Regions from separate parts of the Homo sapiens genome. Here all the other regions are reported to be linked to region 2. The links are microRNA targets in miRTarBase. Many come from high-throughput screens and were not tested one by one. Region 2 holds a microRNA gene; each other region holds the end of a gene's coding sequence.
The links. The annotated mature microRNA hsa-miR-3118 reads UGUGACUGCAUUAUGAAAAUUCU and lies in region 2 at 1,372-1,394, opposite strand. An mRNA with a match to its seed (bases 2 to 7 or 8) in the 3' UTR can be bound and repressed. Matches are read on the target gene's strand: a 7mer-m8 pairs with bases 2 to 8, a 7mer-A1 pairs with bases 2 to 7 and ends in A, and an 8mer does both.

Region 1 (4,240 bases), not on the chromosome of region 2:
CGCCTGGCAAGGTACCTAACTTCTCTGAGCCTTAGCTGCTTCTCTGTGAGCTGAGCATCACAATGCCAGGCTCAGGCCTCTGCTGTGAGGATAAAATGAGATAACACACAGCAGGACCAAGCTGGGTGCCCAGCATGCAGTAGGTCCTCAATCAATGTTTTTTAAAGACAGAACCAGTGAGTAATGAACACTGGCCTTGCCCTAAAAACTGTTTCCTACATCACCTCCCCACACCCAGGTACTTCAAACACAGTGATGGCAGCTTCTCCAACAAGCAGTGGATCTTCTTCTGGTTTGGCCTGGCTGATATCCGGGACTCCTATGAGTTGGTCAACCACGCCAAGGGACTGCCAGACTCCTTTCACAAGCCAGCTTCTGACCCAGGCAGCTGACCCTCACCATGGACACTACAGGCCCTGGAATGGCCAGGGTGGACCAAAAGCCATGCCAGCTGGGCATGACCCCAGGCAGCCAGCCACAGGCTGAAGGGGGCTTGTTGGCTGAGTGATCTGCAGAGGAGAAAGCAGCCCCAGCTCTGCCCAGAGGAGGCGCTGAAGTGGGACAAGCACAGGAAAGAAGGGGACCAGTCTAGGACCCCAACTCGACTCACTCTAAAGCTACAACCAAATGGCCTTCGATTTTCAACCTGGGGATTAGGGGAGGGGAGGGTGCCTTCCAGGGCTCTACTCAGGACTAACCCTAAGGGTGAGCTAGTTTCTGTGCCTCTGTGCTATGTTTTGAGGCTCCCTTACCCAAAATAATACCCCTGCCTGCGTGATATTCTACCATTCATTTTAATTCCTTTGGGTCTTGCAGTTTTTCAGGAGGCCTTGATTAAAATGCAAATACTTGTCTGAGAGTCAGCTTACACTTGAAAGAAAATTAGAAGTGACCCCGTGGGAGCAAGATTTTTTTTTTTTTTTTAAAGACAGGATCTTGCTCTGTTACCAAGGCTAGAGTACAGTGGTGCAATCACAGCTCACTGCAGCCTTGACCTCCCAGGCTCAAGCAATCCTCCCATGTCAGCCTCCTAAATAAGCTGGTACCACAGGCATGCACCGCCACACCTGGATCTTTTTTTTTTGGTAGAGACGAGGTCTCACTATGTTGCCAAGGCTGCTCTCAAACTCCTGGGCTCAAGCAATCCTCCCTGCTTGGCCTCCCAAAATGCTAGGATTACAGGCTGGGAGCAAGATCTTGAGGGCTGGGGAATCAGGGGACTCCTGGAGGGAGTAGAAGACTTCTATGATGAATGCTGCCACCATCTCCCTCCCAGAGATTAGGAAGCATCCTCCCTTCCACAGACCAGGCCACAGCAGCCCCAGCTCCCCTTGCCTGTGAGTGCCTCCACCCACAGCTCCCTTTCTAGGCTGGGCTCACAGCCAGACCCAGGCATCAGTGGCGGACCGTTTACCTGCAAGAGCCCAGAGAAGTTAAAAGATGGCTTTGGCTTAAAAGCTCAAACTTGGACGTTTTCCCCTAGGCCCTACTAGTGGTTGTGTCCAGTCTCTACAGGACTCGATGGGCAGAAATCCAAAGCCCAGGGGTTTCATTTGACATTTTTTGAAGCTCCATAATGTAGCAGGCACCATACCGGCTGCTGCTGGGGTGACTTTCTGGCAGACACATAGACAAGAAGGGAGAAGGTCGCCGGATGCGATGACTCACGCCTGTAATCCCAGCACTTTAGGAGGCCGAGGCGGGTGGATCACGAGGTGAGGAGATCGAGACCATCTTGGCTAACACAGTGAAACCCCATCTCTACTAAAAATACAAAAAATTAGCTGGGCGTGGTGGCGGGCGCCTGTAGTCCCAGCTACTCAGGAGGCTGAGGCAGGAGAATGGCGTGAACCTGGGAGGCGGAGCTTGCAGTGAGCCAAGACCGCACCACTGCACTCCAGCCTGGGCGACAGAGCGAGACTCCGTCTCAAAAAAAAAAAAAATTAGCCAGGCATGGTGGCGGGCACCTGTAATCCCAGCTACTCAGGAGGCTGAGGCAGGAGAATCACTTGAACCCGGGAGGCAGAGGTTGCAGTGAGCCGAGATCACACCACAGCACTCCAGCCTGGGTGACAGTGAGACTCTGTCTCAAAAAAAACAAAAAACAAACAAACAAACAAAACCGTAGTCCCAGCTACTCGGGAGGCTGAGGCAGGAGAATGGCATGAACCCGGGAAGCGGAGCTTGCAGTGAGCAGAGATCACGCCACAGCACTCCAGCCTAGGTGACAGAGCAAGACTCCGTCTCAAAAAAAAAGGGAGAAGGTCAACAGGGAGACCATCATGGCACAGTAGGGGCTGGAATAGAGCAGCCTCTGTCTCCCCTCAGGAGATGGGTCACAGTGAGTACATATCTGGACTTCACCATTAGACAGACCTGACCTGGAATCCAGCTCTGTGGGCTGGATTTGCTCTGTGGCTTGACCGAAACTGCTTATCCTCTCTGAGCCTCCATTTCCTTCATGTATAAAGTGTAAAATATTCCACTTCACAGTGGACACTTCACAGTTCTCTCCCTCTAGCTGCTCTCACCAAAGATGTCTTCATAAGAACCAGCTCCAAATGGGGAGAAAAAGACAACCTACAACAAGAGGGACTGAGGTGAGGGATTGAAAGCATATAGTACAATGAGGATTTTGAGATTCTTGAAAAAGAGAGCCACTGGGCACAGTGGCTTATGCCTGTAGTCCCAGCACTTTGGGAGGCTGAGGCTGAGGCTGGAGAATCACTTGAGCCAAGGAGTCTGAAACCAGCCTGGACAACAAAGTGAGACCTTGTCTCTAAAAAATAAAGAAGTGAAAAATTAAAAAAAAAAAGAAAGAGAGAGAGCCAAAGAACTGTGGGAAATCTTGGAACAGGGGAAAGATCACGGGAGGCCCAAGGTGGGGCTTGACCAGATCTAGTGTTTCAAGAAACCCAAGATCAATCCCAGCCAATGGCAGAGTTCCCTGTTGGGGAGAACAGAAAAGCAAAACCAAATGTCTATATAAAATGTTTATTTTTGGAGGACTGTGTGGTCTGGTGTTTGGGAGGGAACTCCACCCCCACCAGGCCAACCATGGAGCTAGAAACAGAGACAGCAGGAAGGGCAAAGCTGGCCACTGCCTGCTCCACCCCTTCACAGCCCAGAGCAGAACAGGGTCTGCTCTACTCTCAAGGTGAGTGACAGAGAGCCGGTACTGTTTCTGCCCCTGGCATACCCTGAGAACCCATGTGACTTCTGTAGTGCTCAGCCCCTGTGCCCTTCCTGGGCCTGATCCACATGTGTCAACACACGCACTCCCTCTCACAGTCTCCAAACAGCACTGCAGAGCCTAGCTGCATCTGCCAGGTTCAAAGAGGAATTTTTCACATTTGCTCACTTCCAATCTCCATCTTCCTTCCTCTGTCTCCCACTCTCCCACTCTCAGTAGCCGCATCCCAGCCCTGCCATACTCCCTTCTCAGGGACAGGAGACTCAGTGGGCAGCTGGCCTCAGCTCTCCTAACAGGAAAAAAACCTGTACAGCATTAGTGCCAGGGCTCCTGCCCTCCCAAGCGCTGAGCCCAGAAATTTGGACAAATGAGCTGCCTCTTAACTGCAAAAAACAATTTTAAAAAAGCAAAAGATCAAACAAACAGACCAAAAAGCATAAATAAACAGCAGCTGGGCCAGCAAGGAGGAAGGCAGGGTGACCCTCAGTGGCTCCCTGTGCCCATCTCAGCCTCTTGCCATAAAACTCAGCCATCAGTGGCCAGGATGACAGCAGTTCCGAAGATGCCCACACTCTCTCCAAGGAGCTTCATCTGGTTCCAGAACTCAACACGCCGCGTGTTGTGCCAGTAAGCAACATTGCCATCAATGAGCAGCATGACAGGGGGCAGCAGTACAGCCAGGATCTGGGCAGCGAGGGTCACGTAGTAGCCTGACAGAAAGGCCAGGGCCAGGATGCCATACAGCACGAAGAACAGCTGGATCATCAGCTCCCCTCCTGGGAGATGGTTCAGATACGCCAGCCGGTCCTCCTTGCTGTGCTGCAGTGAGTAGGCCTGGAGACATAACATCCTCTAAGACTCTCCAACAGGCTCAGAAGCCTGTCTGGGGTAAACCACCCCTGAGATGGCACCTGCAAATGAGTCCCTGCAGATGGGCTTCTGACTCCCCTCTTGGACTGGGGAACCTCTGAAAGTAGGGCCTTTGTCTCCCCCTCGGACTATGGAGCCCCAGGAGATTAGGGCCCATGTCTCCCCTCACCCTAGGGG
Region 2 (4,240 bases):
GCACAGATCAGGTCTAAGAGTTCTCTTCCTAAAAAGGGGGACTTGCTTAAAAAAGAAGTCTGGCCGCGTTTGTGTAGAGCAGTTGTGCTGTGCTGAGGATTCACTTTTGAGAGAGTTCTCCTCTGAGACCTGATCTCTGCTGGGCAGTCTTGCACATGAGATGGGGCTGGTCTGACCTCAGCACCCCTTAGTCTGCTTGCCTCTCCCAGGACCCCAGCCAGGCCACACCTGCTTAGAGGGCACTTCTGGGTGCCCACACCATAGCTTCTGTACAAGCGGACCGTGGCTGATCAGTGGAGAGCTGCAGCAAGGTGACCTCTACAGCCACGTACCAGCCTGCACATTACCTCTCCATACTGCAGCCCTTTATATGGAAACTTTCTACATCACTTAGCTGTGTGTGTTTACACAGGTGGGTTTTGTTGTACTTGCCCTAACAGCATATGGGAATGCAGCACACACCCCAACCCACACCAACTGCCACTGAAGATGAAGCCATGGTGGGCACAGAACCAAAAACCCCACCCCTGCTAGCATCTCACCCTTGAGGTAATGCTGTGCAGAGGAAAAGGGACCTTCTTATACCCTGAGTGACCACTGTTGCTTGGGGGGGATCAGAGAAGGCACCTTCACTGGCCAGCCACCCACCCCAAACCAGAACTACCTCCAGTGCAACAGCACACACAGTCAGCAGGGGCCCCCTGGCCCACACCCCAGCTGTTTTGCCTCCACCACTAGGTGAATGCCCACAGGGAGGCAGGGACTTTTGCATCTGCTAGCATTCTGCCACAGCTGCCGCACTTTGGTCCCCTCAGTGCGGTGGACTCCAAACCTCGAGGAGCCAGAGAACAAAGTTGTGGCCCAATACAAGTTCCCCAGAGTTAAAGCACACAGTCCAAGAATTGGGAGCTGCATGTTGGCCCCTTAAAATCCTCCAAAGACAAAACCTGTTGGCTGAATCCACCTTACACCACAATCAAATCCTCAAGGTCATCAGATATAATAAAGGAAAAATACCCTGTCCAAAGGTCAGCAGCCTCAAAGATTGAAGGTGGATAAGCCCATAAAGATGAGAAAAAGACTGTGCAAGAACACTGAAAACTCAAAAATTCAGCATGCTTTCTTTTCTCCAAATGACTGCATCAACTCTCCAGCAAGTGTTCAGAACTGGGCTGAGGCTGAGATGTCTGAAATGATACAAGCAGAGTTCAGGATATGGGTAGGAACAAAGTTCCCTGAGTGAAAGAGGTATGTTGTAATCCAATACAAGGAAGCTAAAAATCATTGTAAAACATTGCAGGAACTAACAGACAAAATAGCAAGTATAAAGAAGAAAATAACTGACCTGACAGAGCTGTAAATCACACTAGAAGAATTTTCATAATGCAGTCACACGGTGATTGTGTGTGATTGCATTATGAAAATTATTGTAGTATGTGTGGGCACCTGAGAGTGCCCTGTAAGCAGATGTGGCCAGGCTGGGGTCCTGGGAGAGGCAAGCAGACTAGGGAGGGCTGAGGTCAGACCAGCTCCATCTCATGTGCAAGACCATCCAACAGAATAGACCAAGAAGAGGAAAGAATCCCAGAACCTGGAAACTGGCTTTCTGAAATAAAACAGGCAAACAAGAATGGGGGAAAAAAGAATGAAAGGGAATGAACAAAACATCCGAGAAATATGGGATTATATAAACGACTAAATCTATGACTGATTAATGTACCTGAAAGAGATGAGGAGAATGGAACCAACTTGGAAAACACATTTCAGAATATCATTCATGAGAATGTCCCCAACCTAGCCAGACAGGCCAACACTCAACTTCAGGAAATCCAGAGAACCTCAGTAAGATATGCCATGAGAAGATCATCCCCAAGACACATAATCATCAGATTCTCTGCGGTCAAAATGAAAGAAAAAGTGTTAAAGGCAGCTAGGGAGAAAGGCAACATCACCTGCAAAGGAAATTCCATCAGACTTAGCAGACCTCTCAACTGAAACTGTACAAGCCAGAAAAGATATTCAACATCTTAAAGAAAAGAAATTTCAACCCAGAATTTCATGTCCAGCAAAATTAAGCATCATAAGTGAAGGAGAAACAAGATCCTTTTCAGACAAGCAAATGCTGAGGGAATTCATTATCACCAGACCTACCTTACAAGAGCTCCTGAAGGAAGCACTAAATATGGAAAGAAAAGACCACCACCAGCCACTACAAAAACACACTGAAGTACACAGACAAGTGATGCTAAAAACCAACCACATACATAAGTCTGCAAAAAAGCCAGCTGACAGCATGACGAGAGGATCAAATCCACACATACCATTACTAACCTTAAATGGAAATGGGCTAAATGCTCCAATTGAAAGACACAGGGGGCAAGCTGGATAAAGAACCAAGACCCATTGGAGTATGCCATCTTCAAGAAACCCATCTCACATGCAGTGCCCTACATAGGCTCAAAATAAAGGAATGGAGAAAAATATTTCAAGGAAATGGAAAATAGAAAAAAGCAGGTGTTGCACTCCTAGTTTCTGACAAAGCAGACTATACCAATAAAGATTAAAAAGAAAAAAAAAAAGACAGAGGGCTGGGCGCGGTGGTTCACGCCTGTAATCCCAGCACTTTCGGAGGCTGAGACAGATGGATCACAAGGTCAGGAGATCGAGACCATCCTGGCTAACACGGTGAAACCCCGTCTCTACGAAAAATACAAAAAATTAGCTGGGCATGGTGGCGGGTGCCTGTAGTCCCAGCTACTTGGGAGGCTGAGGCAGGAGAATGGTGTGAACCTGGGAAGTGGAGCTTGCAGTGAGCCAAGATCGTGCCACTGCACTGCAGCCCAGGCGAGACAGTGAGACTCCGTCTCAAAAAAAAAAAAAAAAAAAAAAAAAAAAAGAGAGAAGGAGATTACAAAGGTGGTCCTGACCTTTGATAAATCTCATTATTGCTTGATACCAACCTGGGCTATCTTTATTGCCCAAACCAATAGGATAATGTGCTGAGGTTAGGGAGCTTCTCCCCTGCAGAGAATCCCTGATCTCCCAAAATTTGGTTGAGATCTAAGGTTGATTTTGCTATACAACTCCTTTTCTGAAGTTTTACTTATTTCCAACAAGGCAAGTTTTCCTGCTTCCGTGATGATGGAGAGCAGGCACCTCCTTTCTTGAGTTTCAGCTTGCTTCTGACAGGGAAGGTGAGTGTAAGTTTTTTCCAGCTTCTAAGATGGCAGAGAACAATCACCAGCCTGAGACTTATTTCCAGGTAAGTAGCTGAATTAGAGTTTTGTCTTAAAATTTTTCCTTAATGACTAAAATTTAAGATTACTCACCAGCTGCTTTTAATTTCTCGTTACCATTAGAACACTCAGTAATCATATGAATTGTGCATTTGTTTGTTTTGCTTAACTCTTTTTGTTTGTTTATGTTTGGGGTTTTGTTGTTGTTGTTTCACTTTTCTCCCATCTCTTCCTGACTTGGTCAAATCCAAAGAATGCTCCAAATTGTGGGGAACAAGGCTTCTGAATTGGCTAAAACTCATGTGGCTGCAAAAAAAAAAAAAATTCCAGTTAGCAGAAATGATTTTTTTAACTTTTTTATTTTTATTTTTTACATAAGTGGTTGCATCTTTTGCTAGCCAAGGCCAAACTGAGGGAGTAGTGGTGGCGACCCAAAGTTAAGATTCTGCCCTGTTCACTACAGAAACCTGAGTTTGGTTCCTAAGTCTAGTTCTTTCTGTTTGATATTTGTGTTACTTTTAAAATATCAGCAGTTTGTCCCAGCTATGATGTGGTAGTAAAAGATTCAGAAGTATTTTCTTTACAAGTTCTATGTTGAAAAGCTTAATTAAAAGCAAATTTATTTTTTTTTAATTATACTTTAAGTTCTGGGGTACATGTGCAGAACATGCAGGTTTGTTACATACGTATACACATGCTATGGTGGCTTGCTGCATGCACCAACCCATGATCTAATGCCATCCCTTTTCTAGCCCCCCACCCTGACAGGCCCTTGTGTGTGATGTTTCCCTTCCTGTGTCCATGTGTTCTCATTGTTCAGGTCCTACTTATGAGTGAGATCATGTGGTGTTTGGTTTTCTGTTCTTGTGTTAGTTTGCTGAGAATGACAGTTTCCAGCTTCATCCATGTCCCTGCAAAGGATATGAACTCATCCTTTTTTATGACTGCATAGTATTCCATGGTGTATATATGCCACATTTTCTTTATCCAGTCTATCATTGGTG
Region 3 (4,205 bases), not on the chromosome of region 2:
CGCTTGGCTTTGTAAAGTTTTGTTTTGACTTACATCATCTGAATTCTGTTTATCGAGTCTGAAAAGGAACTGCTGCCAAGGACCAGTCCAAAGAAGAATTAGGCTGTAAGACTGCTAGTTCATACCTTCTTTGAAATCAATGACAATGTCCAATTTTAGGCTAATCCTAAAACACTTGCCATTTTATGACTCCATATTCTTTTAATTTACAGAAAAGTACAAATTTTTTAGAAAGTAATCTTATCAGCACAATATAATCTAACAATACCTGTAATAGAAAGCTATCCCAGTAAATTTTTTTTGAACAATTGAACTTTTGTCTTATGCAGCTTATAACTTTGTTATTTTATTCATCTCAACAAAATAAAACTTTATTGAAACAAAAGTGTATGGTTTAGGAATATGCTCTTAATAACAACTGAGCAAAATTAGAATGATGTGGACTATAACAGAATGAAGGAAGATCTCTCCTGCTTGATGTACTTGGTCAATATATGTTAGTAAACAGAAATATTTTAGGGAATTCTATGATTATTCTACTTCTACATTTACATGTCATGGTTTTAACTAGTTAAATGGGTAGAAAAAAGACATCTTTAATAATTGATTTCTATTTCTCAAACTAGATGCTCTACTTTAAATATGAGCTTTAATGAATGTTTTGTAACATTTTAAAGTTGTAACATTTCTAAGTATACTCCACTAACTTCACAATAAGAGCTAGGGTCACTGGATGACTTCATGTGGTAAAATCCCTTATCAAGGAATAAGGCTGAAATTTAAATGAACAATTAGGTAGAGAAGAGGTATGAACACAGAACATGTGAATGAAATTTGCTTTTTTTCCTTGCTGCTGTTCCCGAGTGCCGACTGATCCATAGTAAAAAAGGACAAGATTAAAATTTTAGGTTTTAATGGTACAAAGTGTGAAGTTTTATAGTTTTCTAATAATTATTCAGTATTATCCCTTTCAGAGATGAGGGTAGGATACCACAGACATCAGTAACTGACAAGTTATAATATCAACACATGTAACATTTGGGTCATTATTTTATAACCCTAAAGGGAGCAACTGCAGGTGCAGAAGCAGTGAGTGAACTAGTTTTGTCCAGACAAGGTTTTCTGATGTGCTATTACTTTAAACACCACTTTTGGACACTAAAGATTTAAAGTGATAAAGCCACTAACTAACTTTATTAGACTAGTTTTTACATAAATAACCAGATTTCTTTGCCTACCTAAAGTACAATTTACATGCATCAACACATAGATTATTCTAAGACATGCTTGGGAAAGTAATTTTGAATGTAAAAAGTTTTATAATTTATTTTCTCCTTAGGGCAGGTGTACATTACATATTAGTGCTCAAATATATGTTCATTTCCAGAATGAATTTTTGCACAGTAATCATATATCCATTTAATATGTATAAAGTGTTCTTGGGGATGGGGGTATATTCACTCACTGTACCATGTTTTATACAGGCTTCAACATGCAAATTTGTTTATATCATGGCCTTCAATGATCCTCCATTCTCATTCCTGTAGATTAAGAGTTCATATTGTATATCTGACCCTGAAATGTACAAACTTCACACTACAACATTCTTCATGACACTATTTGTTATGAGGAAAGTTGCAGCTAAATATTAGTCATGTGACTTAAATTTTGAGAAAATGGAAAATGTAATAGGTATAAATTTCCTGACACATACAGCAAGACAAATCCAGCCCAGCCTTTGATGATCAACTTAAAAGCTGGAGATGTCATTATCTTGTTGTGTAAATTTGGGTCTATCCCTACCTTTACTTCTCTGTGCCTGATTTTCCTCATCTACTTTGAATTCGTCATTCTATTAATCTACTTTTGCCTAAAGTGGGAAACTGAATATATCAGAATGAAACATCTATTTTTTTCATAAAGAAGATCATATAATATGTGAAAGAACTTTGAAAGGATGAGGCATTATATAAATGCAAGAATATAAAAGATAAACAGGAAGTCTAATGTGAACAATATTCTGAGAGTAAAAAGTGTAATTATATTTCCATTGTAAATGTATACCAAGTTTTCTTAGCTTTCTATTCTCCAATAACCTCTAGAAACTATTCTAAGCATGCCTGGTTTCTGTAACTTAAATATGGCATAAAAACCTGTTTCCTTTGAATTCACTTGATAGCAGTAGTCAATCACTAATAACGCTTGCTAATTTCCTCTTACTTTCTAAGAAAACCCCTATATTTAGCATCTGCTTCCATATCGCACGTGGTGGTTAGGGGACAGCATAAGTACACTAGCGGCTTTAGCACTAAACTCGAGGCCTGGGTCACTTCTCCCTTGAAGAAAAAAGGTTTTAAAAATTCCTAAATCACAATGTAGAACTAAGTTCCACCCTACCTCAGAACTGCAGACATTAAAATACCATCTCTTTATTAAGTGTCTCTACAATAATGATATTTGCTAAGAACAAGATGTACATTTTTTGGGGTTCTGTTTTGTTTTGGCAAATATTGCCCAAGTTGTCTTAGTGTGCCTCAAACATTTACTAAAAATAAAAAAATTTAAATCTTTGCCTACTTATTTAAAAATAAAAAAAATACTCAAAACAAATTTAAGCTGAAGATATATACTGTATAAAGTGTTCATCTACCCAGTACTCTGAAGTCTTAAGAAAAGTCAATGATATGTGTGTGTATATATATATATATATATACACACATTAGCAATTTAAGCCTTTTAACATGCCAATTTTTTAGATGCTTTATTGGTTTTTTTTCCCCTTTACTACTACTTCCTGTTTTCCCCTTTACTACTACAATTTAAGCCTTTAAAAATGGCAATTTTTTAGATGCTTGAGATAGTTTGGGGGATCCCTAGCTCTTATCATGGCACTCTGTTGAGTTTGTGAAATGCATCTTCAAAGAGGTTGTCAATAATATGCAAATTTTTGAAAACTAGTGAGATTACTAATTATTGATGAATAAAAAATGAGTACTTTTAATCTGCCAAGTTAAAGCTCTAGAATTCCTTTTCTCCAGTAATAACTCGCAGCATCACTACCAATGGAAGGGACCTAAGGAATACCGTGTACACTGATATACACGAAGCTGCTCCTCATTTTTTTGTCAGATTACAAAAGCTGGGCTCATGTAGTTATGGCCTATGGACCTCTTTTTAAGTTATTTTAGCAGAAGTAGATGATGGTCTACACCTTGCTCCTCTTTTATATTAACTGTCCCTAAGCCACTCTGATGACTATTCTAATCAAAATCAGTATAGCTGTGCTCACTAAGCATATCACTGCTTATTATTCAAATACCTTCTGTTTTCTATGTAGCAAAACAAAAAGTTTTATAAATTTCAGATAAGCTTTCTGTTTTTCTTCAGTGCAAACATCCTGAAACAGCACAAAATCATTCAGCTAGTCTGAGGATAAAGTCAGTTTATGTAGTGCTTAAAGTAGAATCCCAGATATTCTGGAATGGAAATAGCTCATGTGAAACTTCAGTTCATTTTTGTCCTTAAGGGCAAATGATCATCTTCAGAGAGTGAAGACTTTTTAAAATCTGAATTCACAGATAAAATCATTTTAGCTTTACTTTATAGGTACTGCTGAAGTTGTAGCAGGAACTACTAGTCCTTCACTGAGGCATGTAGCCGCCTTGCCGTACAGTCTGTGGTAAGTAACTTTTAGGCATGCCTTCATCAGTCGCAGCCTCCATGCCAACTGTTTCAAATCTTTCTACTTGTCCCTCAGTACCTGGACCAAAAGCATCTGCTGCAGAAACTTCCTGAAACATTTTCATTTGCCCAGATCCACAGGATTGTGAAATATGATCTGAAATCTGCTGTTTAAGTCTAACAAAATCTTCCTCATTGACTGATGAAACTTGCTTTGACCTTTCAAAATGTGAAATATCTGGACTGGATTCATGCTGACTGCAGTTCTGTTTGAAGTACTGTTGCCTGGGCAAAATACCATCACCGCCATCTACATGATCTACTAATTGTAGATCTTCTGGCCGCTCCTCTGAATCTAACAAGGGCTGGGTAGACTCGGATCTTGAGAAGACTTGGACTGACGGAACTTGGTGTCTGTAGCCACTGTGTACCACGGTAGAATACTGGACAGTGCTCGAAGTGTTTTGTGAAGATTCATTTTCATCACTGCTAGAAATGCTTGGCCTAGAAGATGACATGCATGA

Region 1: miRTarBase lists TMEM101 as a target of hsa-miR-3118. Seed matches in the 3' UTR shown: 7mer-A1 at 3,212-3,218.
Region 3: miRTarBase lists IL6ST as a target of hsa-miR-3118. Seed matches in the 3' UTR shown: 7mer-A1 at 1,656-1,662.

Annotation. Positions count from the first base shown.
Region 1 is chr17:44,008,210-44,012,449 of GRCh38, forward strand. TMEM101 (transmembrane protein 101) reads right to left here. Exons shown (of 4, transcript NM_032376.4): 4 at 2,979-4,027. The coding sequence ends at 3,719. NAGS (N-acetylglutamate synthase) reads left to right here. Exons shown (of 7, transcript NM_153006.3): 7 at 239-859. The coding sequence ends at 392. Among named protein-coding and RNA genes, the nearest start is that of TMEM101, 4.6 kb to the right of the region's middle. RefSeq lists a silencer at 3,052-3,346.
Region 2 is chr15:20,829,992-20,834,231 of GRCh38, reverse strand. It overlaps MIR3118-2 (microRNA 3118-2), which reads right to left and starts at 1,437; the gene lies at 1,363-1,437.
Region 3 is chr5:55,937,441-55,941,645 of GRCh38, forward strand. IL6ST (interleukin 6 cytokine family signal transducer) reads right to left here. Exons shown (of 17, transcript NM_002184.4): 17 at 1-4,205. The coding sequence ends at 3,642. Among named protein-coding and RNA genes, the nearest start is that of IL6ST, 55 kb to the right of the region's middle.